Linked DNA regions of Homo sapiens: all the other regions are linked to region 4. The links come from fine-mapping of genetic effects on gene expression. A gene starts in region 4. Each other region holds a variant in brackets. All regions are shown on one strand. Distances are between the middles of the regions.

Region 1 (4,523 bases), 270 kb after region 4:
ATTAATACAACTCTTGCATTTTTTAAACTGTAAGGTTACATGTAATTTGAAGTTGTTTGAATAGTGTAAAACATTAATTAGTTTTTTCTAAATAACTGTGCTTCCACTCATGCTGATTATTTTGCTAAGTTAAGAGATCTGAGGTCTTTTAGCAAAAGTAAAATAAGTAGAGCTCATAGAATGGGAAGACTGGTTTGTGTAGGAGCCCATGACTGCAGTAAAGAAAGTTCCCATAAGACTGATTGCTGCTCACTATATTTCTCACCACTGTAGCCCCTGTCTTCTGAAACATGGTGTAAACTCTATGGGTAATCAACATCTTTTCTTATATTTTTTTGAGACCAGAATGGAAGGAAGCACCCATTTTATGTGGTTGTAAAAATAAAATATGTGATGTATGGTCTAAAACTACACCTGCCAACCTATTACTGATGATACATTAAATGGAATTTTTATACTCATAGTAATTCTGATCTTTGGCTTTCTGTACTTTGCCAGTCAATGAAGGTGTGTGCATGTGTGCATGTACATATGCGTGCATGATTTTTTCATAATGGGAGATGGGGGAGGCCCTATCATACATAATAGCCTGCTGCCTGCTGCCATGTTAAGAAGTCCAACCATTAGTCTGTTTTGATAAGCTAGGCATCTCAAGTAGCCCTATTGATTTTTCTTTAGTTCTTCTTCTTTTTTGTTTTCTGTTCATTTTTGTGTTTTTAATTTATCCTAGGCAGTTGAATTAAATTGTCTTCCACTTAATTCATCTCAGCTTCCCTCCCAGTCTTTTTATGTCCAAAGTCCTTCACCAGTCTTCCTATTGCCTCCAGATTGTGAGCCAATTTCTTGAAGGTGGAGCCAAGTCTCACTCTTTATATCTCCGTATAATACATGTTTCATACATACCTACTGATAAGCTGATCAGCTTAATGATGGGGATAGAAGTGAGCTCCTACTCCTGTTTTTTCCGTCAAAGGTAAACCCTGGAAAAGGACAAAGTTCGAGTAATATTTTCTACGGAGAGCTTGGAACTCAGACGTCTTCTATGGAGTTCTCATCTTCTTGCTCCCTTGCCTTTTGGTGAGGGAAAGAATATGCCACCTGTCTTGTCTCCTGGGACCATGCCAATAAGTGTGCTGCCCCAGGGGCTCTGCAGGATGGGTTTGTTCTCCTGCTCACCTTGCTCCATCCCTGCCCTACCTTTCATCTGCTTTCAGGAGGCTCAAATTGTTTTCTTGTTTCCTTCTTTCCCTTTCCCCCAAACCTCCAGTAAAGAAGAGATTTTGGTATTAAGAAAATGGGCTGTTGAATTCCAAAATCAGAAATAGACCACATAAATATGTATGAAGCATTAAAACCCTTCTTCGAAGTGTGATTTCCTGGCTAATGGATGCTTCTGGGATGATTATTATATATATTTTTGTACTCAATTAAGCCCTATTCAGACCAACTTATTTTTTGGTGAACTTAAGGACCTTATGATTAGCATCCATTAGCATTTCCATTACATCTATATTGTAATAATACCATCTAAAATTTCTATGCTGTATCTCTCACAGAGTGCTTTTATGCCATTATTTTATTTGATACTCCCAACAACACCATGAAGAATGTTGAGATTCTCTTAACATTTTTGTTTTATAGATGAGGAGACTGAGGTGCAGAACATTTAAGCGACTTGTCCAAAGTCATGCAGTGAGTAAGGGAGTGGAATGCTGACTAGGAGCCATGTCCTCAGCTAGTATGGCAAGGGCATGCTCCCTATCACTGCTAGTAATAGCAAATGATCACTACCACTGAGTATTTGCATCATGCCAGCTACTATATTAGGCTCTCTGTATATATTTTCTCATTTAATACTCCTCATAACCCTGCAAAGTAGGAATTGTTATTATTCCCCCCGTTACATAGAGGGGAACTGCAATTTAGAGAGGTTACGTAACTTGGTCCAAGTCACACAGCTAGTCCTAGTATACCTAGGACTATACTGCAGTTGGAACCCAGGTTTCCCTGATTTCAGGCCTCAGCCCTAGCCACGTGGGTCCCTCATGGTTTTACTGGACTGAGCTATGAAGATATTCAACATAGCATAGCTCATAAAGGCTGTTCCAGTTCTCATGATTCCCTGAGCTGTGATTACGAGCTCTCCTTGTGACTCCTATGGCTCTGGGGCATATTGCCAGAGGTAAAATTGGGAGCTGTATGGATCAGAAAGGCAGAGAAAGTGAAGGGACTAATATTTACTGAATGCTTACTATATGCCCAGTGGCCATTAAAACCCATATCACAGGAACCTTGTAAGTCTGGTATTATCATTTCCACTTTATGGAGGAGGAAACACAGGTTCAGAGAGGTAAAGAAACGTATGCAAGATTGTAAGTGGAAGAGTCAGGATTTTTAGTCAGGTCTGTCAGACCTTATAGCCCATGTTTTCTCCTCTATGCCTAAGTAGGAGTGGGCTCAGTGGTGATGTTTTAAGGGCTAATGTTGATGTTTTAAGGGCTAATGAGAAGGAGCAGTATTTCTAAAGGGCTTAAGGAGGATTATAAGGAACAGAGATGAATTTAGACCCTGGTGGTTATAATGCATTATAATCAGTACTCTGGAGCCCTATAAAGGAACTCATAAGAGAACCCAAAGAGAAGAAAAACTGTGGCAAGTTTTAGGCTACATTGCCTAGCTTATATCACAATGCCAGCAGCCTTCAACTGCAATACGTAGGAACTGGGACTTAAAAACCAGCAGAAACACATTGGTAAACATCATAATGACACGCATATTTAGGAAAATGATGTTTTTAATTTCAAAATCTATGCAGCCTTGCCTTATA[T/C]AGTCAGTGCTAGGAAGTTGTGGTGTACCAGGAAATGATTTACATTTTAGCCTTAGGCAAAAATATGGAACTTGTAATTATGTCAGAGAGAGGCAAAACCTTCCAGATTTTACAGCTTTAAAGCTGTAAAAGTCTCAGTTAGGATGTGTGTTGATTAAACTGTGGTGTGGCTGAGCATTTTGCCTGAAACTTCATAGGGAATAAGCATCTGTTAATGACTTTCAGGTAAAAACCTTCCTTCTAAACCTTTAATGCAGTATTGTCAAAATGTGGAAGTGGTGGGTGACAAGCATTTTCTTGTTCCTTCTAAGGCCTTCCTGATCCAAGGTAGTTTTGAGCACAAACGGCTGTGCTGGTTAAGCTTTTGGCTTGTGGGAAGAAAGCCGCACATCAACTCCTGATACGCACGAGCTAGCCTGAACTCTGTGATGACCATCAGATGCAGATAAACTGCCAGACAGAGAAGCTGTCTTGTAGATGTGACTTTGCTGCCTTCAAGAGCAGGGCTTTCTGCACCTATGCTCTAAGCGCCCTTAGTGTTCCTCTCCCAGTGGTCCTGGATTGATTTCTCTAATGGGGAGCCTCCTCTGTAGGGTCTACAAGGTGACTGGTGGATTGATTGCCCTACTCCACGTAATGTGAGTAGGCGATTGTAAAGGGGAGGCTGAAGAGCTTGCCTGTTTTCTTTGTTATTCTTCTTACTGAGAGAGGTGGACTAGAGTGGTAGTTCAAAGATCTGGCTCTGCAGTCACAGATCTGGGTACCAATCAAGGTTCTGTCCCTGATTTTCTGTGTGACCTTGAGCACATCATTTATCATCTCTAAGCCTCTTTCTCATCTTTTAATGCTTTATTCACAATACCTGGTTCACAGGATTGTTGTGGGAATTAAATGAGATAATGTGATATTAAGTCCTTAGGACTTTTAAAGTTGACATAGTATTATAACTGTTACCTCCGCTAATAGCGTCAAACCTTGGGTCTAATCAGGGCTCAGTCTCTTTACTATTTGTGTGACCTTCCTAACCATTTTGCCATTCTGTCTCCCTTCTGAACATAGCAAATATAACTAGCTTGCTTTGGCCTTCAAATTAATAGAATTCATCAGCCACAGATCTCTGTGAGCCACTTGCTCTGTAACAGGGAAGGAGTATGTGTGTCTGGCATGGGAGCTTGCCAAGAATATTTGCTCAATAGCTATGCTATTATACCATCACGTGCTGCTGTGGCTTTATAGGAAGTATATCCTGGATGGTTATTACATATTTAGCTGGAATTTAGTTTCCTAGGGAAATAAAAGTTTCATATTTTAAGAATAGACAATTATTTTGAACAAGTGGTTTATGTCCACAGAAAGTTCATGTTCTTATCTTTTATGTTTGAATGAAGGCACTGTGTATGAGGTGTCCCTGAACATTGGAAGTCTAAAGAGCATGGATTTGGATGTCAAAACTGGGTCCAGATTGAAGTTATGACATGGACCACCTGTGAGAGCCTTAATTTCTTCCTGTGTGAATGTAAATAATACCTACCTCATGGGATTAAAAGAGAAAATAATATAAGAAAGCATATATCATATTATGTAACACATAGTAGCCTCTCAATAAAAGTTACTGGTTACTATTTTGGGCAGATCCAAACATTATGTTAATAAATTTCAATGGCTCCCACATTTTATTCTTTGGGGTGGCACATTC
Region 2 (4,523 bases), 150 kb after region 4:
TTGCCCCTTCTCATTCCTCCCTGAGTGCTGCGGGCAGGGGCTTCTAATTGGCCATTATGGATTGATCTCCCTGCAGTGAAGTGTTCTAAGTAGGAAGAACACATGGTATTGTGGAAAATCAACATAGCATGGTGGCTCAGAAATAGATTCTGGAGCCAGGCAGGTTGCTTGGTTTGGAATTCTGGTCCTGCAACTTACTGCAACCTCTCTATGCCTTAGTTTCCTCACAGTTTAAAGAGGGATAAAATAATATCTATAGGTCTATTTGCGAGGTTTTAAAATTCTTGGAATAGTACCTGGCTCATTATACATGCTATAGAAATGCTTATTCAATTAAATAAATAAAAGCATCTTTGGTAAGATAACTCTGAACATTGTATGGTTTAGTAGAGGATGCTGACAAGAATAAATAATTAAAACATATCATGAAGTAAGCATAAAAGATAGTGGTAATGCAAAGATGCGAATGAGCTCTGCTTCCTGTGATTAGTGTGAGCAGACAAATTCACTGTACTCAGAAGCTTAAAGCCTAGCGTGGGAAGCTGACATGAATGAAAACCAACGGGAAAAAATGTTAGAGTAGAGGTGTAAGCAAGAGTGATTAATTTCAACTTGAAAGCAAATGGGGGAGGTTTCACAGAGAGGGGCCCAGCATGTTGGTTGATTGCTTGGGCTCCAGAATCAGGCCAGCTCAGTTTAATGCTGACTTTGTACCTCACTGGTTTTGTGACTTGACCTCTCTAATCCTCCATCTCCTTATCTGTACAGTGGGGGGAAATAATAATGATAATAATAGGTAGCTCATAGGACAAATAAGAATTCACAGTTAATGCATCAAAAATCTTAGCACAAGGCACTCAATAAATGTGAAGCTTTTATTGTTATTACGAGTTGAAACTTGAGTGGGAAAGAACTTCGTTCACATTAAACATGAGAAAAGGCCCAGAAGTTGAAAAGCATTTGACATAATTAAAGAACAGCAAGTCAGTGCCACTTAAACGGTAATCCAACCACCGCCAGTCAGTGAACAGCTTTTTACTGCTCCATGAACAGGTAAGTATAGAAATTGTGAGTAAGCATTTAGAAATAAAAACAACAACAACAACCAATAATTGAAAAACTAATTTTATACTTTTTGGCATACTCATTGTACACTTGTAATAAAAACTGGGCTTGTAGTTTTTGTCTCTTTTCTTATTTGCTAGCAGGTTTTGATTTGTATTTTACAGAAATAATGGTCCATGTCAGATTGGAAATAATAAAAACTTGTCTTTTACCCTTGATAGTTTGAGAAAAAAGTAATTCAGTGGGGTTAGATATGGCATCCGAGAGATGATTCGGGAAAGGTGGGCCAGGGCCATGTTTATGTGGACCCTCCAATGCCTCAGAGTTCACACTTGTTTCAGTGGGCAACAGGACTAGTAAGGTTTAGAGGGACTGTTAACCGAAGGTGAGTGGACTTTGCACATTTTATGGTATTTTTTTTTTCCCAGTAGGCATGTGCTTATTCTTTCTTTTCTTTTCTAATTAAAAGTTCTGTTTGGTTTTTTTAGTTAAGAGGAGAGACTGGAACTGCTCAGTGTTTCACAAAGATAACTGTTTGTATTTGATAAGAGTTTCGTTAAACAAAGGAATTTGCACTTATCAAAACATAAAGCATTGAAAACACTGAGCACATACTCTGTGACCAGAATGCGTGTGACTTGTTGAGATAAGCCACACCGGGTAATCAGATGAGTCTCCTTTCTTCTTGGGCACCCTCATATAATTCAGGCACAAACGAAAGAGAAAACGCTTTTTCTGATCTCTCAGTTCGGGTCATCTCTGCCTTCCATCATCACCGCCTAACAATCCTACACCTGGCAGGGTGGGAAAACGGTTTAATAATCTCTTCCCTTTGGGAGGCGTTTGACAGCTCAGAAAGCATGGCCTTTACTCAGGCTCAGAGACACACAAAAACCTTTCACGTTTTCCTTTCAGCTTCGCAGCCCCGTCCTTCTCCACCTGCACGGGCACCCACTGAAGCACAGGACCCTTCTGCCAAGCCATGAGCCTTCTCAGGCCCCTGCCGCCCGCCTCGCCTGAGGCTGCGCTTCTGAAAAGCACGCGGCCCTGGCCTGCGCACCACCCAGTCTGAAGGCGACGCCCCTGCACGAAGGAGTCAGGCCTAGGGGCTCGGGACCCAGGGCGACACTCAATTTTCTAACAGGAGCCACAGCCCAGAAGCTGAGAAGCCTTCCGGCCGATCTGTGGCCCTGAGGTCGCCCTTGGAGGGCGAGTGAGAACCCCCCAGGCGTTCCGGAGGTGGC[C/G]CCCAGCCCGAACCCGGCGCCCGCCCCGGCTTCCCGAGTCAGGTCTTTGCCCCGCCTCTCGGCCCCGCGGCCTGGCCGGCAAGCAGGGCTGCAGTCACGGGGCGGCGCGGAGGGCCCCAGCCCAGTCAGGGGTGTGGCCGCCGCCACCGTAAGGCTAGGCCGCGAGCTTAGTCCTGGGAGCCGCCTCCGTCGCCGCCGTCAGAGCCGCCCTATCAGGTGTGTTTGCAGCCGAACTGGCAGTGCCCGCGGGCGGCTGGGCCGAGGCCTTGGCTCCTACCCGCGGGGGTCGGGCGGGCTGAGGCTGGAGCAGGCCAGGGGCGGGGGCAGAGGGGGACGGACTTCCAGCATCGCTCATTCGGGGGCGTGACGGGAGGACCTGGCTGGGGAGCGGCGGGTTGGGAGCCTGTGGCTGCCCCTTCGGTGACAGTGGAGTCACCGAGCCTAGAAATGGGGAAGCTGTGACGTGGGGGTGGTGGAGGGTGCTGCGGGACAGCAGCGAGCACGGCCCTCAGCCGTCCTTCCCAACACGGTTTCACTTCCCCTCAGCTCCAGGGCTCAGCCCCAAGCCGCCCCCTTCATCCCCCATCTGCAAACAATCCTGGTCCCCCTGAGCCTCCAATATGCCTTATGCAGTTCTTTTGGGGTTCCTTTCGCATTTTACCGTGTACTTTCGCTTTTGATGCGTCTAGTTTCTGCTACTGGACTCTCCTAGAATCGAAGTTCCATGAGGGCAAAGTCCCATCTGACTTAGGACTCAGAGCTACTCAATAAGTAATTGAATGAGTACCTATGCCGTAGAACTGAGTGAATTAACAAATGAGTAAGTGAATAAATGAGTGCATACGAGATACAGCTGAATCAATCAGTGCATGAGTGAAAATAAAGATGTATGAAGTGGAAGCAGTGGAGACGCAGGCTTACAACTCCTGTTTTTTGATAGCTTTCCAAAAAGTTGTGTGAATGTCGCACTTTTGCAAATGGAGGCATTCTGATTGGGACCACTTAAAAAGAGTTCTATGCTGTTCAAATGGTCTCTGGAAACGCCCCCTGGTATTTCCATTTTTGTTGGACTTGGCTATATGTGTTTGCTTAAAACAAAATATGCCTAGGTTTTTTCTTGCTTGTGTTTTGTTCACTTCTACTTTGGACGTTTAAAGAATCATTGTCACTATAATATTATTTCATGTATTTCTTAAAGATAAGGGTGACTCTGAAGGCAGAACCATATGACTCTGACTTGTTTGTAAAACCAGGCTTTTCTTTTGAATTCAGAGTTGTTAAGAATCTTGTCTGTTTTCCTGAGACAGGTGCTGGCTGATTTGCAGGTGACTGAAGAAGGCTACATAAGGCCCAGAAAGACGCTTATCTGTTTGTAAACAAATAGGCTTAGCACATAGCTTTAATACAGTTGGTCACTGCAGCCGTTCTTACTTGCCAGGTCCAGGTTCCAGAAGAGCTGGATGACCTTGGACTTGCCACTTGATCTCTTTAGGTTTTAATTTCTTAATCTCCAAAATGAAGATGTTTAGCTAGGAACCCTGCCTGAGTTAAACCTCTGGGATTCTTTTGTATCAGGGTTAGAAGGTGAAATTACAGATGATTTCATGGAGTTCTGCTTACTTCACCTCCCATAGCATTTTGTCTCTGCTCTCTTCTTTGCTGTTTACAGCTCATTTCCTTTCTTCTCCACATCTGCAACAAGAAAGCCTGGGAGCTCAAGATAAGTGTAATAAACCCTAGGCTGGTGGGGAGAAAGGAGGGTAAGATTTTCTTCTACATTGTCACAGGCTCCTGGTCCTGGGTCTGACTTTTTTCCAGTGCAACCCAGTCTGACAATGCCATATATTCCCAGTATATCTGGGGAACTGCATCACTATTTCTTCGCATGCATTTGAGATTAGTTATCATAGATCACATTTTGGAGCTGGAAGGACCTTGGAGATTTTTTAAAGGCACTTCAAAAGTCATTATACATACATATTTAAATATTTTTGCATGCTACATTTAACAAACACAAAGTTCCAAATGTGTTAAGTAAAATGAAATTAATGTTACCTACTTCAGTGAATTCAAGTTTATAAGGAGAAGTGGAATACACATGTTGCTTGGTGAAAAGGGCCAACTTTCTCACACTGTTTTCCCAATGAGGTCATGTGTCATACAGGCATGGAATGTTACAAAGCTGATATTTATGGGGCACTGACCATACACCAG
Region 3 (4,523 bases), 140 kb before region 4:
CACAGTAAAATTCTAGAGCAGATTATTAAAGGGTGGTCTGTGACCATCTTTATAGAAGCAAGCATTGATCACTGGGCATTAGCAGAGGTTCACTAAGAACAAGCCATGCAGAGCTAATGTTGTATTGCTTTTACACGTAGTTATCAGATTGGTAGATCAAGGGAATACTACAAATGAGCAAAGAGCAGAGTACAAATCCCACCTAAGCAAAAATAAAATAAAATAAAGGACCTACCTCAACTTTGAGAAACACAGTGTGCTACTGTAGTTTCTCTTGAAGATTCACAGGACACATTAGCACATTAAAGGTTCTGAGAAGTCCTGCACCAAAAAACCTATTTAATACCATCCCACTGATCAAGCATTCTACAGAACACACTCGGAAAAAAAAGAGGATGTTTTGGATGAATTCCAGCAGGTGTTTTGCAAAGCTTTTTATTACATAAACTGTGAGGAGGTAGAGAAATGAAATGTGGAGTTAAAAATAACTCACTGGAATCACAGCTGGGTAGACAACTGTACTGAAAGAGCATTAATTAATCGATGAATTGCCACCCTGTTGGAGGTGTCCAGTGGATGTCTCAAGGCTCTGCTCTTGGTCCTGGCATGTTCAACATTCTTATCAGTGACTTGTATCACAACATTGAAGACTTACTTTTAAAATGTTCAGATAGCCTAAAGCCAGAGAAGCAGCGAATATGCTGTTTAACAAATTGAAATACTCTCTCAAAACCAATAAATGAATCCAACAGGATCCCATTGAGACTTATTAGAAGCAATGGTGTAAGTAAGGGATGGATGAAATGTGACTTGAAACCAGCTCATATGAAAAAGACCCAGGTTGCAGCTACATCAAGATCAGCCCAAGCCAAATGTGTGACAGGTCTACTATGCTTCTTAAGTCAGCGAAGCCATCCTGGGCATGCAAATGGCGTGCAGGGCAAGCAAGCTAGGCAGGATGGTCTGGCCACACTGGGTATTGAATTCTGGTCTTATGGTGCATTTCAAGAGGGACATTGACAAACTGGAGCCTGTTCAGAGAATAACCAACATCAGGAGAGGTCTAGAGAACTTGTATGCTGAGAAGGAAAGTCTGTAGAAACCAGGGATATTTAGATGGTCTATAAGAGAAGATGAGGAGCATGGTGATGACAACTGGCTTTGAGAGGCAGTGTAGTGTAGTAGAAAAGAGGTGAGTTTGTGTTCAAATCTCTGCTCCAGTACTTCCAACTGTGTAACTTAGACAAGTTTCTTAATATCTCTAATGACTCTTAATGTCTCTAATGACTCTTCAGAGTCCTTAGATGAGAAACCATCATCCCTATTGAGTGGCACTATTGGAATGTGTTTGGAGCAGAGTAAGTGGTCAACACATGCTTGTCTTCCCTTTATCCATGTGAAGAATGGCAGTCACGGCAATGAGAAGGGTGACTATTTGCTATAGATTTGTGGGGAAAATTGGGACCAATAGGAGAATTCCCCAAAGGGAGACAGATTTGGTGATGAAAGGCAGGAACTTTATAATAACCAAAAACCTGGAAATCAAAAGAACTGGCTCACTGCCTTTAAGTTGACACTGGAACTTCCACAGATACTTGTAGAAGAGATCTCTGTTTGGGGTGAGAGGTGGGATTAGATGACCCCCCAGATCCCTTTCAACTCTAAAATCCTGTGATTCAAAGATACAGCCAGACTATTTATTGTTCTCTTCTGTATGTAGTTAACTCATATATTCACCCTCCCCATTCATGTATAGTACAGTGATACTTATATGTACTTACTTAAAGTTATTCCTTGGCCATTCCCCATGTATGGGTTTTTCTCTCTCCTCTATTAGTGTTCACATTACAGCCTC[G/C]TTCAGGAGCTTGTCCAAAGTGGGCACTTAATAAATGTTAATAGACTAATAAGAGAGGTCTGCGTAGAGTGATGACTGTGAGTCATTACTCATAATGACTCATACAGGCATATATTTGAACTCATACTGTATGACTCCTTTGGACTCATACAGGCATGTATTCAAATCTTGGCTCTACTTCTTGGGCAAGTTTCTGTCTGGGCCTCTATGTCCTCATCTATGAAATGGAGATAGTAATATTAGCTTTATCAGATGAAATGAAATAAGTTTGTTTTAAGTCCTTGGAAAAACAGTAAGTATACAGTAGATGGCAGATAGAATTATTTTTGTTGTTGCTACCAGAGTGAATGTAAATCTATTTAATACTTATACAGGGGTTTTCTGACTACACAGTAAGAGGCATAGGAACAAATGGGTTCTTCCTGCACCTACTTGTTTCAAAACATTTTCTCCTAAACAGTGTTCTTGTTTATACCCCAAAGCCTTCTTAAGTCTATTCTCCCATTCCTAGCAGCGTATATGATTGGCACAAAGAGGAACCAATTGGAAATGAGCAAAAATGGAGAGACTGAAGTGGGCATGACTTTAGCCTAGCCAGAAAATCTATGCCAAGGCCCAAGCTGGTCTGAGGCATCCTCATGGGGAGTACCTGGTGTGCAGTCTGCCCCTGCTGGCTACCGAGGGGGCCTCCAGCTGTGGCCACTGGAGAATTGGCCCTGCCATCACCCTCTTGTTGTGCTCTGCAGAACAGGGGAAGTGTCCAAATGAGCATTCCCTCGGGGGCCCTGTGAGCCCCTCCAGATAGGTCCTGACCTTGGTTAGGCCTAGCCCAGCATGGACCATGGCCTGAACTGCAAGATAGCCGACAAGAAAGTAAGGGAGAATAAAGCACAGATGCTTTGTAAAGTTTGTAATTATGGTAAAAAACACATAACATAAATTTTACTGTCTTAATCATTTTTATGTATACAGTTCAGTAGTGTTAAATATATTCATATTGTTGTACAACAGAGCTTCAGAACTCATTCATCATGTAAAACTTGTGAAACTAGGCTGGGTGTGGTGGCTAACACCTGTAATCCCAGCACTTTGGGAGGCTGAGGTGGGCGGATCACCTGAGGTCAGGAGTTCGAGACCAGCCTGACCAACATGGTGAAACCCCGTCTCTACTAAAAATATTTTTAAAAACTAGCCAGGGGTGGTGGTGGGCGCCTGTAATCCCAGCTACTCAGGAGGCTGAGGCAGGAGAATTGCTTGAACTCAGGATACGGAGGTTGCAGTGAGCTGACACGGTACCATTGCACTTCAGCCTTGGCGACAGAGTGAGACTCCATCTCAAAAAAAAAAAAAAAACTTGTGAAACTAAACTCTTACCCATTAAACAACTCCCCACTTGCCACCCCTCCTCGTTCCCAGCAACTGTCATTCTATTTTCTGTTTCTATGAATTTAACCACTTTAGATACCTCGTATGAGTAGAATCACACTTATCTTTTTTGTGTGACTAACTTATTTTTCTCATCGTAACATCCTCAAGGCTCATTATTATTAACCTCAGCGGCATTATTCACAACAGCCAAAAGGTGGAAGCAACCCAAGTGTCCATCAGTTAATGAATAGGTAAACAAATATAAACAAATTGTAGTACATCCATACAATGAAATATTGTTTGTCCATAAAAAGGAATAAGGTACTGACATGCCACAATGTGGATGAACCTTAAAAACACTATGCCACTTGAAAGAAGTCAGTCACAAAAGGCCACATGTTATATGATTACATTCATATGAAACTCCAGAAGAGGAAAACCTGTAGAGACAGTAAGTGGATTAGTGGTGGGCAGTACTAATGGGAGACTGAGGCAGGAAGATTGCTTGAGCTCAGAAGTTCACTACCAGCCTGGGCAACATAGCAAGACCCCGTCTCTACAAAAAAAAAAAAAAAAAACAACCAAAAAAATTAGCCCAGCATAGTGGCATGCACCTGAAGTCTCAGCCACTGAGGAGACTGAGGCAGGAGGATGGCTTGAGCCTAGGAGATTGAGGTTGCAGTGAGTCATGATTGTCCTCCTGCACTCCTGCCTGGGTGACAGAGCAAGACCCTATCTCAAAAAAAAAAAAAAAAAAAAAGTAGATTAGTGGTTGCCTAGGACTACAGGGAGGGGGCAGTGGAGGTGGAGTGATAGCTAAAAAGTACAAGAGTTCCTTTCTGAACTGATAAAAATGTTCTAAAATTGACTGTGGTAATGGTTACACATATCTGTGAATATAGTAAAAACCACTGAATTGTATACCTTATTTTTTAAACCACTGTATTGAAGTATGACTGATATACGAAAAGTTGTATGTATTTAATGGGGATAAGAATACACTCAAGAAACCATCACCACAATCAAAGCCATAAACTTATCCATCACCTCCAAAAGTTGCCTTCTGCCTCCTTTATGTATTTATTTATTTTAATTAAATTTTTTTCTTTTGTGGCAAGAGTACTTAACATAAGATCTACCTTCTGAGGAAATTTTTAATTATACAATACAGTATTGTAACTGTTGGCTCTATGTTGTACAGTAGATCTCCAGATTTATGCATCTTGCATATCAGAAACTTTGTACCCTTTGAACAATACCCCCCCAATCTTCCCCACCCAGCCCCTGATAACCACTATAC
Region 4 (4,523 bases):
AATAAATCTGAACACAAGATCTTGAATATTTGTTTTCATCTCCTTAATATTGTGTCACTCAAAATGGTACCAATTCCCTTATTATATATACTCTCAATGGAGTATTTATCATCTTTAAAGAAACAAGTCACTGAGCATCTCATCAACACCAAGAGCCTTGGGGTGTGCCTTCAGGGCAGCAAACAGATAATATCCCTTCAACACGTGTATCCACTTATTCATTTTTTATCACTGTCTGCCCAAGCTGAATCAGAGAGCATTCACCACGCTTCTTGTTACATGGGTGCCCCAGTAAACAGCAATAACTGTGAGAACCAGCAAATCAGTGGAGTGCACTTCCTGTTTTACTGGAATTCCAATTTATTTGATGAATACTTAACTGTTGGGGACAATGGAGGTGTGGCCTTGCCTGAAGGCTGGCGAGTAGACGAGGCCTCTTATGAGGACAGAGCTGGTATTTTATGGCTCTTTGCATGTATTTTGCATTGCTGCTTTTCCTTTGGAGGCCTTTTTAAGAAGTCTCCCCATCTCATGAACCTCTTCAACCCACAGACTCCATCTTAAAAATAAGGGCACTAGGCTGGTGGCTCACGTGTCTAATCCCAGGACTTTGGGAGGCTGAGGCAGGCAGATCACTTGAGCCCAAGAGTTTGAGACCAGCCTGGGCAACAATGGAAAACCCTGTCTCTATAAAAAACACAAAAATTAGCTGGTGTGGTGGCCTGTGCCTGTAGTCCCAGCTACTTGGTAAGCTGAGGTGGGAGGACTGCTTGAGCCTGAGAGGTAGAGGCTACAGTGCAGGCCACTGCACTCCAGCCTGGGCAAGAATGAGACCCTGTCTCAAAAAAAAAAAAAAAAAAAAAAAAGGCTGTGGTTCATTCTTTCAAAAGCTAAGTGGAGCCCACATTGGCACAGATGCCAGCTACAGTGTCTGTGGAATCAGAAGCATCATCTGATGTTACAACTTCTGGCCTATTGCTCTTTTTCTTCTTTCTCCTTTGCCTACTCTTCTATTTCTCCATATTACCTTTTTGTTGGCCAATGCCTTAGACTTGCTCATGAGCATTTGTAGGTTTGGTAGCTGGCACACAAAACCAAAGGAATAAGTGTCTCCAAGTTTGAGTTGTAATTCTCCAGTTAAATTTCTTTCTTTGAGATTTATTACAGTAATAGGTTACTAAGACATTTAATTCTCACTGAGGGTATGACTGTATTTTATTCTAATACTGAGTTGAAAAATTACCATGGCCTCATATCTATATATCTACATTGGTGTATTTTAAAGGCTCACAACTCTTATACGGTATAAATTGAGCTTTAGAGCAAAATTTATTCAAGATAATATTTATCATGTGTCTTTATGTACCAGGAATGAGAATACAATGGTGAACAGACAGAAAAGTCTCTGGTTTCCTGTAGTGGGCATTCCAGGAGCAGAATGGCGTCATAATTCATTTACTCTATAAGTCAGAGAGAAAAATGATGGCACGAACTGCAAGGGATTTGTGTGTAAAATTTGTGACAGTAAGAAAAAGAAACTGGAAGGGAATACGCATTTGCCATGTTCTATAATATGCCACAGACATTGTAACAAAATATTTCATGTCAGCTACTTCCATTTAGGAAATACATGTTCATTATTTTCTTCAAACTAAGAATTACTTTATCCCTCTTTTCTTTGAAGTTATCTTAAATCTGTTATTATTCAGGGTCTCTATCCAACTTCTCATCAAATTACCCTATTTGTAGCTTCCAAACGTTAACACCTATCTGCTAAAATGGAGCCTATAAAAAGCCTTAGTGGCATAAACTGTGTGTGAGGGAGAAATGGTATTTAAGCCCTTAATGAAGTTAGGAGCTTTCAAACTGTTGCACTTTGGGTTTACAGGATCCTTCCTCCATGTCCCTTTTTTGGGGGTGCGGAAGGATTTGGGAGAATGGGAAACACTCTCACTATATATTTATTACATTAATTATCTTCTCTTTTAAAATGCAATTTTCATGAACTGGCGATTTATGAACACTTCACATTGCTTGAAAGCATCTTACACTTTTTTTTTCCCTCAACTCACAAAGCAGTTTCTTTCTACTGGTCGAATTCTCAAGGCAGAAAAGCTACATACGTCTCTCGTTTCTTCACTAATTGTTCTCTAGAAAAGGGAAAGTGAAGAAGGGAAAGAGAAAAGACAACGGGGAAGAAAAGAGCATAGAGGAGAGAGGAAAAGTGGGGAGAGAAAGGAAGAAAAGGACTGAGAAAACGCAGGAGCCCTGGCTTGCCGGTGAGCAGAGCCGGCGCAGCCACAGCGCGGAGCCGCGGCGCCCACTGGTCCTCGGAGCTGCCAATCGGCGTGTAATCCTGTAGGAATTTCTCCCGGGTTTATCTGGGAGTCACACTGCCGCCTCCTCTCCCCAGTCGCCCAGGGGAGCCCGGAGAAGCAGGCTCAGGAGGGAGGGAGCCAGAGGAAAAGAAGAGGAGGAGAAGGAGGAGGACCCGGGGAGGGAGGCGCGGCGCGGGAGGAGGAGGGGCGCAGCCGCGGAGCCAGTGGCCCCGCTTGGACGCGCTGCTCTCCAGATACCCCCGGAGCTCCAGCCGCGCGGATCGCGCGCTCCCGCCGCTCTGCCCCTAAACTTCTGCCGTAGCTCCCTTTCAAGCCAGCGAATTTATTCCTTAAAACCAGAAACTGAACCTCGGCACGGGAAAGGAGTCCGCGGAGGAGCAAAACCACAGCAGAGCAAGAAGAGCTTCAGAGAGCAGCCTTCCCGGAGCACCAACTCCGTGTCGGGAGTGCAGAAACCAACAAGTGAGAGGGCGCCGCGTTCCCGGGGCGCAGCTGCGGGCGGCGGGAGCAGGCGCAGGAGGAGGAAGCGAGCGCCCCCGAGCCCCGAGCCCGAGTCCCCGAGCCTGAGCCGCAATCGCTGCGGTACTCTGCTCCGGATTCGTGTGCGCGGGCTGCGCCGAGCGCTGGGCAGGAGGCTTCGTTTTGCCCTGGTTGCAAGCAGCGGCTGGGAGCAGCCGGTCCCTGGGGAATATGCGGCGCGCGTGGATCCTGCTCACCTTGGGCTTGGTGGCCTGCGTGTCGGCGGAGTCGGTGAGTGGGCCAGGCGGAGGATGCGCGCGCCGTTTAGGGTGTTTGAAGCTACGAGAGGAGCCCGCAGGGAATAGGGGAGCGCCACCTGGGGAACCCCCAGTCCCCAAGTATACACCGGAGATCCGCTGGGACAAATGCGCTCGTCCGGTCACCCTTTCCCCCTCTTCCCTTCCTCAGAAAAGCGCTGCTCGCTGGCGTTACCCCGCGGTCCGCGGGAATGGGGGCACCGAGAATTGCGGTTTGGTCTAGCCGCAGAGGCCCCTGAAGTCACTCCCAACTTCTTCGCCCTCGGCGGGTCTTGCTGCGTGGTCTGGGAAGGACGGAGGGGAAAGGGTGGCAGGAGGGGGGAGCCTGGGTCGGGCCCGCGAGGGAACGGCTCCACTCCGCGCGCTCCTCGAGACCAGGGATGACCTGGAAACTTCGGGGTCCCTTCCTCCGCACACCATCCCCCCCGCGCCAGCTTTCCTGTTTGACTGCATGCAAGTTCTGGGGAGATGGGGGCCAGATTTAAGAGACCCGCGAGTGTCCAGAGAGAAAAGTTTGCAAAAGTTCTTTTGTTTGATGCTCCCTGCGGCTAGGGCGAGGTAACCGACACTACGTGGAATCGCAGTAGGCGATCCCTCAAGGGGATACTGGGGGAGGCACGGAACGCGTCCGAAAATGCTGGGACGCCGGCCACTGGATTCCCAGTCCTGCGGCGACCCCCTCCTCGTTGAGGGGTGGAGGTTGCACCGCGGGGCGTCAGGGACGGGAGGACATTTTCATAGGAGTTACACGGGAGTGCCGCAAGCAGGGCGAGGCGGGGTACGTGTGACACGGCGCTCGGCTTCGGGTCGCCTGGCCGCTGGGGGACAGAGGCTTCCCTCCCGCCACGCTCGCCCTCTCTGGCCCTGGCGGGGCGCTTCTGGGGCCGGGAGGAGTCTCGTCTCCGGCGGAGCGCCTGCCGGCACCCAGCTTCCCTCCCCCGCCCTGGCGGTGGGAACTTGATTTCTCCTTTTGGTCGCGCTTCGGGGGCTGGAGCTTGTTTCCCCACGTCGCCCAATGAGCGCCCTCTAAAGGGAACTGCCTCCTTGGCCTCCTCTCGTCCGCAGCTGCCTCCACCTGGGCGCCAGGAGCTCTGTCGGGCCAGGTGGAAGCTTGAGCACCCCAGATTTCGTCTGCAGCCTCAGTGCCCTCTGGGGTCTCAGGGAGTGCGGCTGTTTCTGGCCCTTCTGGTTCCCCACGTCCTCTCCCTTTGCCATTTAATAACGTGTCAATTTCTAATTAATTGAATGGTCTTTTCAAAGACAAATTATATCATCTTAAGGTCTTTTAGGTAGTTTTATGAGTTTGAGTCTCCCTCCCCCCCTTTTTTGTGCTGAGGCTAATTTAGGACTGGGAAACCTCTTTGGCATCGAGCGGCAGATGGACATTTTTAATCAGTGTGGGAGCCTC
Region 5 (4,523 bases), 32 kb after region 4:
GGAAATGGCTATTTCTGGATTAGCTTTATACAAATGAGTGTATTTCCCACCTGCTGCTTTTGCCTAGGGTTGGAATTTTTCCTTTTCACTGCTTGTTACTTGGCGTTTGGATGGAAACGTATCCTCCCTTTCAGAGCCAGAAGATTCTGTGTGAGTCATCAAGAAAAATTTCTCCGAGGAGTTATTAATTCAGTTAGTTGCTCCATAGTAAATGGTTCATGCAACAGTGATAAACCTCTGAATTTGAAATCTTTCTTTAAAATCTTTTTTCCTTCAAAAAATGCATACAGTGGATTGCTGAGCATCTAAAATCCCGCACTGTTCAGCACTGTCATTCTTGGTAATTGCTTTTTAGAGGATTTGGTGGTGTTTTGCTGCTTAAGCTAAACCACGAAGTTAAACTTTTGTACTGTGGAAGTAGTTCATGAATCCTTTAGATTTCTTGGAAGAGGAAAGATGAGTGTGTGGTGAATATATATGAATATCGCATATTTGAATGTGTTACTTACTAGTTTTGGTTGAGCATTAAGGTTGCCCCTAATGGATGGGATCTCTGCCAGGGGTAACTCTTGGAGTCCTAGGTGCTATTGGGGAGGAACCTTTCATTCTCGGCATTCTGGGGGAGATTTACATCTGTAAGCCGGATAAAAATATGTGGAAAGGTGATTAGTTTAATTGGCCCACTATTATAATTATTCAGTAGGAGGTGGCTGTGGGACTGCTATTATAGCCCAAAATGCCTGGTAGGAAGAGGCGGAGACTCATTGAAAACAGCAGCAAGGTTATAAAACGTTGGTTTAAACGTGCATTTAATAACAGATTACCCTGGTGCTTTAAAGACAGAGGAATGCTTAAGTATTTGGTACAAGAATCCATCCAAAAAAAGACGCGGATTTTTTTTCAAAGATAATTGTGGGAAATTCTGCTAATGATTTCTTTTCCCTTAAAATATCATACAGGGGAGTAGGATTTAGGTAGGTGTAAAGTTGCTCAACGTGTTGGTAACTTTAAGATTATTTCTTCTCTGGTTGTTGCCACAGACACTCAGGGTGGCCACAATGGTGGTGTTGTTTTAGGCTTCTTTCAAAAAAGAAGTCCAGTCCAGGATAATGTTGTAAAGTGGAGTATTTTTCTTTCACATCAAAGGGCAAGGAATGTTTTACAGACAGTGAGCTAAGAAGTAGGGCACAGATATTTCAGTACTTGCGTTGGGAAACTATGTGTGGAATGTCATAGTTCATATACCAGAGACCCCGAAGTGAATCCAGGTGCCTGCACGGTGCTGACTTTTCCTGGAGTGAGATGACTGTAGGCAGAAATTGCAGCCAGATGAACCTAAAATAAAATTGATGGCTTTATTGGACATTCTTTTCATGAGATTTAACTTCTTAACGTGCACATACATCACTCTGGGGATGTCATTATCATGGCTGACCTTTCGTTTGGGGGAGCTGCTGCTCGCTGTCTGTGCAGCTCCGATCAGCTTGGCTTTGATTACCACCCACATCTGTTGAGCATGTGAGAGAGAGATTTTGAAAAATCTCAAGCACACTGACAACTGGCTACAAAGATTTAATTAAGACCGGTCAGAACTAATTTCAGTTATATATTCCAGTTTAGGGTATCAACTCCTCTGGTTTCAGAAGGGGGAGTTATGACTT[C/T]CTAAAAGTTGTTGTTGAAGGCAGCATGAGGAAATCTCCTTGGGCAAGCAGTGGGTTTCTTTGTCCTAGCTCCCCCACTGCTACCTGGGGTTAATGATTGCAGGGTGGCTGGCGTAATGAACCAGTGCCGGAAAGCTTATTATCAACATGCTGAAGTCATATTTAGAAATCATTCCTCCTCCTTTTTTCTCCTTTCCAATACAAGTCAGAGCACTGCTGTGGTTCCACCTAATAAATACTGCAGGCTTCATTGGGCTGTTCAATGAGACCTAATATAGTATCATTTGTGCACTTTAGTGGGTGGTTCCTATTTATATTTTTGTGTGGTTTACTGCTCAATCTTGGGAAGATGTGGGGTTTGAGGGTTTATCAGTTGCAGTTTTTTGTGGAACCAGTTTGAGTGAGACAAGACTTTGGCCATTATTTGTCGGGTTACATGGATCTCCATATGAGCTATGAAGATACTGGAATAATTGGGTCACAATAATGTAAAATCGTAGTCTGTACTTTCAGCTCATTCCAGAGGAATGATTGGAAGCCCTGCTCTCCCTCTCTTCTGCATGCAAACCTCAGGTGTGATTTCGGCCTGTGCCCAAGTGTTCTTGAAATGTTCAAGGCTGTCCGTTCCCACTCTGTGATGAGGCTTCCGGTTGATGTGTGACATCACTTAGGGCAGGAACTGGCACTGTCTTGATCCTGGCTGTCCTAGAGAAGCTTCTGTGCTTGGCCTTGGGAAGCCACCCCATTTGGTGCTGCTGTAGTCTCCTTTCTGCTCCTCTTTTAACAGCTGCCTCCCACCTGTGCTCACTTCCACCTGCAGGCCTTGTTTTCCAGTGGCACTGGAGTGCCATGCTGAGGTCACTGGACAAGTTCCTTATCAGAGCCCCCTTCCCATTAGAGTGAGGCTGCACCCCATCCTGCCTGGGCTTACTTTGTGCGTTGCTTGGGGGCATGGAGAAGGTTCTTGCCCTTGCTGCTTTATATGAGGTCCAATTCCTCCAGTGTTTGCCATCTCCTTTAGAGCTCTCTGGTGACAAAACCTTCTTCAGCTTGTCTACCCTCCAGGCTGGTGAGTTGAACTCAGACTGGTGCTCGGAAAGGTTAAAGGACTTGTCCAAGATGTTACCTTACTGGCAAACTGCATTCCCAAGTCTTTATTGATCTCCGAGGGCATCTCTTAATTTGTTGGAGTTTTCTTTTCCTGGAAAAAATACTGCTTGGGTCTCAGTTTCTCCACATATAAAATCAGAATAAGACCATAAATTCATGTAGTTGAAAGGGGCGGTTTCAGGAAGAAAACTAAGATAATGAAAGCCTCCGGAAAAGGGTCTGGGACGACATTATTTACAGAGTACTTTCCACACATTGTCAGGGTGGGGCCGCACAGGAACCTTGTGGGGTAGGCATCATTGACCTGTTTCAAAAATGAACAAAGTCAGTCCCAGAGACCTTGAATGGAGGCTTATCAAAGCTAAGCATACGGCTTCAAGTTTAACCGTCAAATGGTAGAGTTAGTCATGGCTTTTGGATGTGCGGGCCAGGCATGGTGCAGGGCCAGGTATGTTTTAGCCTTGTGGTTCTTTTCCTGATATTTCGGTCCTGTGGGCCTCCCCAAAGTGGCTTTGCACCTATGTTTGTTATGGGCATAAGGAAGTTAGAATTCTATGAATATGTACTGATTTTTTGTGATTCTGAATTTAAATAGGCCTCTATAAAGCTAATACTTGAAGTTTTGTTGTAATGAAGCATCACAAATACTTTTACATAGGAAAAAGGACCAAGCTGATCTCCTTAAAGCGGTTGCAAAAACCACCCAGTTGTTATACGATTGTTTGTTTCATGTTTCTTGTTATGTGGCATATTTCCAGTAAGTGGAGGGACCAAATATTTTATAGTTACAGAAACTTCTTCTCTCCCTCCTTGAAGTTTAAAAAAGTGGATCAAATGTCTGCCTATTTTCAAGGAGGCAGGGAGACAGAAGATCTTTTCCAGATTGCAGGAAGGCCAACGCAGGTTGCACCCAGAGAACTATGGAAACCACTGTTGAGGAGGAAGGAATTGGGTGAAAATTAAAGAATCAAGCTAGTAAAAGTGAAAAGAGGCCTTTGGTTTTTTTTTTTGGACAGTTTTTAAGGGCCTTCATAAATACTTGGTGTACTCCTCAAAGACCAAGCGTTGAAGGGTTAAGTCAGGGAACTAAAACTTGGATTGTGTGTTGACCCCTGTGTAGCTGTGGCCAGGGCTCCTGATTTTCCCCTGACGATCCATTGGTAGAACAAGGCCAGTGGTACTGTTTTCTGGTGCAGGGGAGGCTCGGACCTGCAGGGGAGTTACGGAGGCTGGCCACTGGTTTGGAGCAGACAGGTAAGTAGCCTCTAGGGAGGTGGTAGCTCTGTACAACAGTCTGTTCCCAATGTCTGGGTGACTCTTGTTCCCAATACTTGGCTCTCTTTTTGGATGTCAGAGTCATATTCTTCATTCTCCATGTCTCCTGCTAATTTTTGGCATTGACCCATCCAGGATTTATTTCAGCAGCTAGCATGGTGCCTGACCTATCCATAGTAGGTGCTTAGTAAATACTGCACTCCACAGGGGGAAGAGGGCAGGCACGTTCTGCCTATTGACGTGGTGGGAAGAGAGACCGTGCTTAGGGACAGGTTTGGGAGCTTCATTATTTCTGCCTTGGGACTGTTTGAATGCACCCTATTTTGCTATAGGGGAAACACTGCAATAACATAAATCCCACTTGAATCATTCTTTGTTCTATCACCCCTGCCCTTATCACTGCTCTTGTAAGACAGACATCATAGGAGACTCCTAATCCTCTCCCTGCCTCTGGTGGGTGCATGACACTGATCTAGC
Region 6 (4,523 bases), 420 kb after region 4:
CATTTTCTCAATTTTAGGGTTCTCCTCCTGTATCCTGTACAGGTCATGAGAAAAGACTTGTTGAGTCCTATCCTACTGTTAATAAATGTGCTGTTGATAGGAAAATGTTGGCAGAAGTGCCAATATGAATAGTCTTCTAGTTGCTTTTCTGATGGTTGTGACATAATGAATCTCAAATGTGACTTTTGTCATATAATTGGAGGCTCTGAACATTAAGAACATTTTCTTAAGGATCATCCAGGCAGAAAATGAGTTCACAGGTTTTTAACATTTTTACTGATGGTTCCCAAGGCTCCACCTGTCCCTTCATTCTATTCTATACTGCCTCTTTATTGGATTTCTCCCCCACTGCAACGTGTGTGTGTGTGTGTGTGTGTGTGTGTGTGTGTGTCTGTGTGTGTGAGGAGAGAGAGACGAGAGAGAGAGGAGAGAGGGAGAAGAGAGAGAGAAGAGAGAGACAGAAAGAGAAAAGATTGACAATATATTTCAGAATTCTTAAGGTTTGCTCCTCATTATTCTGTGATGTGCAGTACTATTCATAACAGAAAGGTCTGATAATTAGCTGCCTTGGGATGTTCTAAAGGTGAAGCCACTCTCCTGCAATGCATCTTGCAAGAGAGATTAGTGATGTAGACTGGAGGTTGGCATGTGACAGAGACTGTTAAGGACAAAAGCAGATTGATAACAGTGAAAGCTGCTGCTTGGACAGGTTCATGGATTTAGAGAGCGACCTCCCCGCCATGGGAACTGGATCCCTATGAAACTGTGGCATGAACTACAATGAGATGAAATTACCTCAGAGAAAAATCTGAAGGCACATTTGAGGGTTGGGACATTGCTTAGGAAGCTGATTACCAAAGACAAAAACATTCATGTGTATAGTGGGAGAATGGGAGATAGGTTACTCTTTAAATAGCTAGTTGGCATTGTCATTGAAGTTTGCCTTACTGGAAAAATTATGCAGCTATTTCTCTTTTCAGTTTTATACACATGCGCACACACACACACACACACACACACACACACCATATATTCTGGGGAAGAGGTGTTTTATTTTCCTTTTGTATCATGATTTCATAGACCCTTATATTCTCTAAGAGATCTGGGCTTTCAGCCACATTCCCATAGGATTCTGGAATTTTTCCCTCTACCCTCAGCCTGCCCCATCACCCAAGTGTGATTTTTGTGATTCTTGTGTTTCTCTAGTGTCTCACCAACTGTATTTCTAAAGCTTGGTCAGTGTTCCATCTTGGATTTCTTGTTTTGCCACTTGTGATGGCAATTTATAATAAAACCAAGATATGACCTGTTTTGTATCCAGCAATGAAACAAGTTGGAATCTGCCTGTGATGTGCAATGTGCCTTCAATGAAGGGGCAGCTGTGATGTGAATGGATCTTGGGGGAGAGAAAGGACCTTAATTTCTCTTCTCTTTTCCCATGGATATAAAACTTTGTTATGGTAAACTAAACCTCTGATATCATATGCAACCGCTGGCATTCTAGATTGTTTTAATGGCCACTCCTTATTGCTTCATGCTAAGCGTTACCATCTGTTTCTTTCTTAATTATAAATGCAGCAGGAATTCACAATTACATCAGTAACGGTGGAAATAAAATGGAGTTAGAGGCTTTCTACTTAACACAAGGCAGCCTTCCTCTAATATTTTTCTTCTGTTACAGGCATTGGTCAGAGAGGAGACTTTTTCAGTGGTTTTCTTTTCCCTCTCTTCAGTATACTTACCATGAGAATGTCATGCTATAAATTCAGCAATTTCCTTTTAATGAGAGGGAGAGCTGTGTTTATTTTCTGTCCATGGAGCTGGGGATGTGTGGGCAGCTCTTTCTCACAGTATTGGAAACCAGTGGTGTGACTGTCCTGCTGTTATTGGCCTCTGTTTTTGTGAAAACAGATGAGTTATAATAGCCCAATGACATGAGTCATGTCATCCCCCAGAGGAGAGCTGGGAGTGGACATCTAAGAAACTCTGGTAGCCAGCCTGCCTGTCTGTGAATATATGGGAACATTTATACAGGGAGGTGATATAAAAGCTGAAGACATGTTTAACCCA[G/T]ATTACTTAGGCTTTTATTTTTCATTAAGTGGAAAAACTAATCAAATTTCAGACTCATGAAATTTTAGTGCTAAAAGAAACCCTTATAAATCACCTTGATCAAAGCTGTAGTGACTGCCCTTTCCTTTGTGTAGTGCTCGACCAGGTTGAGCACGGGATTTGGAGTCAGCAGAACAGGTTTGATTCTGAAGCCACCACCATGGACTTTGAGTCCTCTTCACTGAGTTTTTAGTGTCAGTTCTCTTTATCCATGACAGGAGACATGATGCTTCTTATGAAGCCTATGTTTGGATTAAATGAGAGGGAACAAGTAAATCCTAGCCATTGTGTGGCCGGTCTGTGGGGTTTTTTTCCCCTTCTTTCCATTCACATTTATGATAGATGAAGAGATATTGGTCCAGAGAGGTTAAATGCCTTGCCCAATATGATACATCTAGTTCAGGGTGGACCTGAAGTAGAAGTAGTTTTAAAACTCTATTTCAAGGCTTTTGCTTACTATGTCATATCTAGACCCTTTGCTACCTTTCTCCATCCTTGTCACCATTGTACAAGGATATGTACTTTTGCACAATGAATAACCACAATGGTTATCATGTGTATGATACTTTTTAAATCTGTAAAGTACCTTTTAAAATGTATATTCCCATTTAACATGAAGTAGGTGAAATAGTGTTATAATCTTTTTTTTCTCTCTCTCTTTGAGACGGAGTCTCACTCTGTCGCCCAGGCTGGAGTACAGTGGTGTGATGTCAGCTCACTGCAAGCTCCGCCTCCTGGGTTCATGCCATTCTCCTGCCTCAGCCTCCTGAGTAGCTGGGACTACAGGGGCCTGCCACCACGCCTGGCTAATTTTTTGTATATTTAGTAGAGACGGGGTTTCACCGTGTTAGCCAGGATGGTCTTGATCTCCTGACCTCATGATCTGCCTGCCTTGGCCTCCCAAAGTGCTGGGATTACAGGCGTGAGCCACCGCGCCCGGCTGAAGTAGTGTTATAATCTTATCCTTCCTCTTATTTTAAGTTGGAAATTCTGAAAGGTCAAGTATCTTGTTGAAGTCACACAGAAGGCTGAGTCAGGACTTGAACCAGGTTTTTAAGACTTTCCATATATGGGCTTCACTCTATACTAGATGGACTCTTACTGTTACACCAGTACATGTAGGAGAGGACTGAAAGATGCAGTAAAAAGAAATCGATATTATTATCTATAATTTAATAGTTGTAGTTAGGACTTTTTATGATGTGAATACTATAAGACCAAAACCATTTTCTTGAATTATATTAATATTTTAGCGATCCACGTGCTTTTTACCCACCAGAAGGTTCCCCTGGGTAAGTAAAGAGGTGGAGCAGGAGAGAGCAGGTTTGCACCGAAAGTAGTTACAAAACAAAACAAAACATATAAGACATCAACCACAAGAAGCCCTTGCTCCAAAATGCAAATGACTTATTTGCTACTTCAAAAATGCACCTCATCAATGAAGGGATCATTTGATCATTTGTTCCTGCCAAGTTTATGTTTAGTCCAGGAAGGGTCAGGCTGGTGCATATTCTCACCCAGGGGTCTGAGAGCACAGTGGCAGGTGTGAAAAGAGTCTTTGGGCCTTGCACTTGCCTTTTCATGCCAATGCCCTCATCCAAATAAGAAGTCCCCTTTGCACTTTCCCAGCTTCTAGGCCATATGTTATGTCTGTTTCTTAGAGGGTGATTCAATGATTCCTGGTGATAATGACATCACACTGAGTTTTACTTACATCCTGTTTCTCTTGTATAATGCCCATGCTCCTCTTGTCATGCGGTCCTGAGCCATCAGGGCCCACTCTATAAAGCTTCCTGAAAATCAGGCCTTCCTGGCAACAAAACTAAATCTTTTAATCTCAGAAACCCTACTACTGACCATGTATAGAAAACCATGCAAATTTAAAGAATGTAAATATTGACATTCTCAGGTTTTCCCATGTAACCTGATTTAGTCTGATTTCCCTATTATTTCTGCCATTTCTGTGGGCATTTTACTGAAGCCAGGTTTTATAAAGCAGCCCAGAAGCAGCATCGTTCATAAGGTAAGGGCACAGGCTGTAGTATCGGCCAGACCTTTGGTCGAGTTCTGGCTGTGCAGCTTGACTGTGTGATGTCAAGTAAGTTCTCAGAGCCTCCCTTTCCCCATCTGTAAAGTGATGATAACGGTGCCCACCCATTAGCTGGTGCTGTGAGGATCGGATGAGCTACCGCATGCAAAGTGCTTAATTACAGGACAATGTTTTGCCTTTCTGACCCCCCAGAACCAGATGAATGATTCATTTGTGATGTTTTTCTCTTATTAGGAAGCTTTAGCTGGACAAAGGTCATTCAGGATTATTTTAACATATGAAATGCATTTGTTTTATTGAAAGAGATTAGAAATGTTATTTTGAAAGTTTTATACCTTACTTTAGAAGTCAAGTCTTATAACAT
Region 7 (4,523 bases), 38 kb after region 4:
TCAATATTCAATAGGTATGTTAAAAAATGAATGGAAGAAAACACATCAAAATGTTATTAGTAATTATCTCTGGTGATTGACTTACAGGTAATTTTTATTTGCTTATTTATAATATTCCGCCTCATTCAAATTTACTGTTAAGAATTTGTTAAATTTAAATAAGAAAAGTTATTTAAAACAAATCCCAACCTGTACCCATTTTTACATTTAAAAACTCCATGAGTACGAGTGACGGCTATGGCTGTCAGAGTTAAGAATCTAACAAAAATAAAACGGCAAACATGGACCCATTTCACATTATGGAAATATCCTGGGATATTTTCATTCCAAGGTTTCTTGCTCAGTGCTTACTTTCAAGGCTGGTTTCAGGTGTGAGGAAGAAGCTTTGAGCAGAAGGCCTGTTTGTAGAGTGAGTGAGTAGCCTTCTTACTTGGGGCAGCTGACCCCAAAGGTCTTCCTCTCCATCTCCCTCCTTCAGTGCTTTCTTCCCTTATTTTTCCCCTTCCCTGTGACCCCTGAATTGCTGATAATTCCTTTCCTTCTTTGTTCTTCTCAATCCCTGGTGTGTATATGGTTAGAAGTTCCGGTGCCCACTTAGCTGAGCCACAGAGATTCCATTTTTAACTGGTCCCTCATATGCCAGCCCATCTAGTTCCTCAGGCATTACCGCCTTCCCTCTCCCAGCTTTATTCTGCTTATTTACATCTTTCTGGGAATGATGTGCTTCAAACTTTCCAACCTATTAGTTTAAACCAGATTTAGTGGCAGGGGCGGGGGGAAGTAGACTTTCTCTGCCCTTTGGTTTTGCTTTACTTTGAGATAAACACTATATACATTAAAGGTGCTTAAATGATGTTTTCTCTGACTTCCTAAAGGGGTTACTTTTCATTGACTCCTAACATTTTAATTCTCTGATTGTGATTGTTTTGTCTAAATCATGGGGTGGAGTGCATGTGGGGAATTAGAAAACTAATTGTCATTATAACCTTTCAGCAGAATTTTGGAATGATTAATAGCTATGTTAATATGCCATAACATAATTACTTATAAAAATCAGAATATACCACCACCTTGTTAGTATTAAAATGGTGCTAGGCTGGGCGCGGTGGCTCACGCCTGTAATCCCAGCACTTTGGGAGGCCCAGGCAGGTGCATCACCTGAGATCAGGAGTTCGAGATCAGCCTGGCCAACATGGTGAAACCCCGTCTCTACTAAAAATATAAAAATTAGCTGGACGTGTTAGCGGGTGCCTGTAATCCCAGCTACTTGGGAGGCTGAGGCAGGAGAATTTCTGGAACCCAGGAGGCAGAGGTTGCAGTGAGCTGTGATCGTACCATTGCACTCTGGCCTGGGAGACAGAGTAAAACTCTGTCTAAAACAAAACAAAACGAAACAAAAAAACCTGCTAAAATATAAGTTACTTTCTTTATATAACATTTTAGGACCTTACAGTGTACCTTAACTTTCTGAGCATAGATAACAAATGAAGATAATAAGAAATATTGTTTTATATTGTTTATAAAGCACTGTGCCCTACATTGCAGTTTATAGAACCACATAACAGTTGGCCATGGGCAGTATCTCAGGAAGCCTTAAAATCTCGGGAAGACTGACAGAATGGCGGAGCTAAGATGGACCTCAGGGTCATCTAATCCAGTGTTTCCCAACCATTTTCACATCATGGCACACATTGAAAAGGTGCACAGCACACCCTGGGGAAATAAATGACTGCTCTTGGCTGGAGGTAGTGGATCTGAGGACTCCAGCCTAGGCTGTGTCCAGCTCCCCTGAGGGCTGATGGGCATCAGAACCTTGGCGCAGCTGTCCTGGGGCATTCCAGTTGGGAACTGTGATCTAACCCAACCCTGCCATTTTACAGATGAGACACATCTGCATTTACATATCGAGACCCAGAGAGGTAAAGTAGATTGTTCAAGGTTACACAGTGAATTAGTGACATTATGATAAATAGAATTTGAGCATTTCAGAAACTGGAGTTTAATATAACTTCTCTTTTACATTGCATGCCTCATTATGTTGTTCTTACAGTACATTAGAACTTTTATAGGGCACGTTTTTCCAAAAGGTTTACCTCTGCCATATTGTATATGGAGAAGTATGATTAATATTAGTAAATTATAGATATATCTCTTTTGGACAACCTA[A/G]AGAATAAAAGGCTCTTTTAAACCCCAAATTCAAGTTAAAAATTAAGATTACGATGCTAAAAATAGTCTAACATATGTAAAAATGATTTAAAAAATTTTATTTACACAAAGAATGTACTCAGGCTATGAAACTTGTATGCTGGCAGTTGCCTCACTTTAAAAAATAAAAGAGAGAAAAGTAAGATGGAAAAGAAAATTAAAATTGTAAACATTTTAATGACTCACCACTACCTCCATCCTTAGATTTCTTTGCCATCAACTATTTAAACCCTTTAAGAATATTAGGAAACCGTGGTTACTTGGCGTGGTTTTATAAATCTGTTCTGGTAATCTCTAAATTCTCCTTCAACCCCATGATGATTCACTGATTCTAGTGTAATGAGGGCTTGGTTCAGCCTTACATATATTTATGTGTGTGTCAACCAAGATGTACATGGGAACATGGCATCTCATCTTCAGTTCTTTGTCTGAACCACAAAATTTATGTGCCAATTCAGGACAGTTTATGGCGCTAGGTTTGTAACATCAGAGTGACTTGTTCCACCATGACCTCAAGATGGTAGCTGTAGACTAGCGACACCTTCCATTAACAGCTGGTTGACCTTGGAGAAGTTCTATAATCTCTTTTTTTGCCTCTGTTTTTTCATCTGTGAAGTGAAGGACAGGCTGCCTACCTGCTAGGATTGTTATATGGATTAAATGCATTAGTTAGTGCAAAGTCTTGAACAACACCCAGTGCACACAGAAATAAATATGATAAATAAGTACAGTGAATGTGGGCCGTTTTCATCACCATTATTAGTAATAGCTGCCATGAGTTGTCATTGAACAGGGAGCAGTAAGGGGGCCTCCAGGTATAAACAAGACCCACCCTGCTTTGTCAGTCTCAGGTTTTATAAAAATAGTCGCTGCCTAACTGAGTTCTTGGGGCACTAAGGAATAGGATTATTATTACCAGATGCCCCTGAGTCTCTCTGCTTATTGAGGCGTTTTTTTTTTTTTTTTTTTTTTTGGTAGGGCTTTGTTTGGGAAAAAAAAGAAAGAAAATCTACCTCCAGGGACATGGGTAAAATATTTTTTCCCTTAGTTAACGTTAAATTCCAGTCATTCTTTTGCAGAAGTGTTGTGGAACAGAAGGGAGGGGTAAAGATTCCAACTTTAGACATTAGACTAAGAATGCATGTAATGAGTACCCAGACAGCATGACACTTTTTCAGTTATCACTGCCACCCCCATCCCCCCAAAAAAACACACTGTGAGGGAAAGAGCAAGAGCTGTGAACTCAGACAGGCTGAGTGCAGCCCCTAGCCCGCACTTAATGGCTGAGTACATCCGGGCTATGCATTCACCTTCTCTGATGGGTCTTCTAGGTTGGAGTCATCTTCTAGAGGTGCTGTAAGCTGGTGTAAGAGACTAGCAAAGTGCCAGCAGCATAGGCCCTGTGCCCTAAATGGGCCCACATTTTTCTGAGTTCATCTTTGCTAAAGGGATTTTTTTTCTTAAGTACATACTGTATCCAGAATTGGTGGGTTCTTGGTCTCACCAACTTCAAGAATGAAGCCGCAGACCCTTGCGGTGAATGTTGTAGTTCTTAAAGGCAGCGTGTCCAGAGTTTGTTCCTTCTGATGTTTAGATGTGTTTGGAGTTTTTTCCTTCTGGTGGGTGCTTGGTCTCGCTGGCTTCAGGAGTGAAGCTGCAGACCTTCGTGGTGAGTGTTACAGCTCATAAAGGTGGTGTGGACCCAAAGAGTGAGCAGTAGCAAGATTTACTGCAAAGAGCAAAAGAACAAAGCTTCCACAGTGTGGAAGGGGGACCCGAGCAGGTTCCCACTGCTGGCTTGGGCAGCTTGCTTTTATTCTCTTATCTGGCCCCACCCACATCCTGTTGATTGGTCCATTTTACAGAAAGCTGATTGGTCTGTTTTATAGAGAGCTGATTGGTCTGTTTTGACAGGGTGCTGATTGGTGCGTTTACAATCCCTGAGCTAGACACAAAAATTCTCTATGTCCTCACTAGATTAGCTAGACACAGAGCACTGATTGGTGCATTTGCAAACCTTGAGCTAGACACAGGGTGCTGATTGGTGTATTTACAATCTCTTAGCTAGACGTAAAGGTTCTCCAAGTCCCCACCAGATTAGCTAGACACAGAGTGCTGATTGGTGCATTCACAGACTCTGAGCTAGACACAGAGTGCTGATTGGGGCATTTACAAACCTTGAGCTAGACACAGAGTGCTGATTGGGGCATTTACAAACCTTGAGCTAGACACAGAGTGCTGATTGGTGTATCTGCAATCCCTTAGCTAGACATAAAGGTTCTCCAAGTCCCCACTAGACTCAGGAGCCCAGCTGGCTT

Evidence for each region. PIP is the estimated chance that this variant, and not a neighbour inherited with it, causes the effect.
Region 1: its variant is fine-mapped to the expression of SDC2 in whole blood (TOPMed, PIP 0.97).
Region 2: its variant is fine-mapped to the expression of SDC2 in whole blood (TOPMed, PIP above 0.99).
Region 3: its variant is fine-mapped to the expression of SDC2 in whole blood (TOPMed, PIP 0.92).
Region 5: its variant is fine-mapped to the expression of SDC2 in whole blood (TOPMed, PIP above 0.99).
Region 6: its variant is fine-mapped to the expression of SDC2 in whole blood (TOPMed, PIP 0.92).
Region 7: its variant is fine-mapped to the expression of SDC2 in whole blood (TOPMed, PIP above 0.99).

Annotation. Positions count from the first base shown.
Region 1 is chr8:96,758,028-96,762,550 of GRCh38, forward strand. All of the region lies in intron 1 of CPQ (carboxypeptidase Q), which reads left to right. Among named protein-coding and RNA genes, the nearest start is that of CPQ, 120 kb to the left of the region's middle. The variant T/C (reference allele first, on the strand shown) is at 2,828.
Region 2 is chr8:96,642,878-96,647,400 of GRCh38, forward strand. It overlaps CPQ (carboxypeptidase Q), which reads left to right and starts at 2,365. Exons shown (of 8, transcript NM_016134.4): 1 at 2,365-2,525. RefSeq lists a silencer at 2,240-2,789. The variant C/G (reference allele first, on the strand shown) is at 2,310.
Region 3 is chr8:96,347,380-96,351,902 of GRCh38, forward strand. No RefSeq gene overlaps it. Among named protein-coding and RNA genes, the nearest start is that of PTDSS1, 88 kb to the left of the region's middle. The variant G/C (reference allele first, on the strand shown) is at 1,856.
Region 4 is chr8:96,491,243-96,495,765 of GRCh38, forward strand. It overlaps SDC2 (syndecan 2), which reads left to right and starts at 2,571. Exons shown (of 5, transcript NM_002998.4): 1 at 2,571-3,089. The coding sequence starts at 3,030.
Region 5 is chr8:96,522,892-96,527,414 of GRCh38, forward strand. The region is part of intron 1 of SDC2 (syndecan 2); the gene reads left to right. Among named protein-coding and RNA genes, the nearest start is that of SDC2, 31 kb to the left of the region's middle. The variant C/T (reference allele first, on the strand shown) is at 1,662.
Region 6 is chr8:96,907,753-96,912,275 of GRCh38, forward strand. The region is part of intron 4 of CPQ (carboxypeptidase Q); the gene reads left to right. Among named protein-coding and RNA genes, the nearest start is that of CPQ, 260 kb to the left of the region's middle. The variant G/T (reference allele first, on the strand shown) is at 2,071.
Region 7 is chr8:96,529,258-96,533,780 of GRCh38, forward strand. All of the region lies in intron 1 of SDC2 (syndecan 2), which reads left to right. Among named protein-coding and RNA genes, the nearest start is that of SDC2, 38 kb to the left of the region's middle. The variant A/G (reference allele first, on the strand shown) is at 2,167.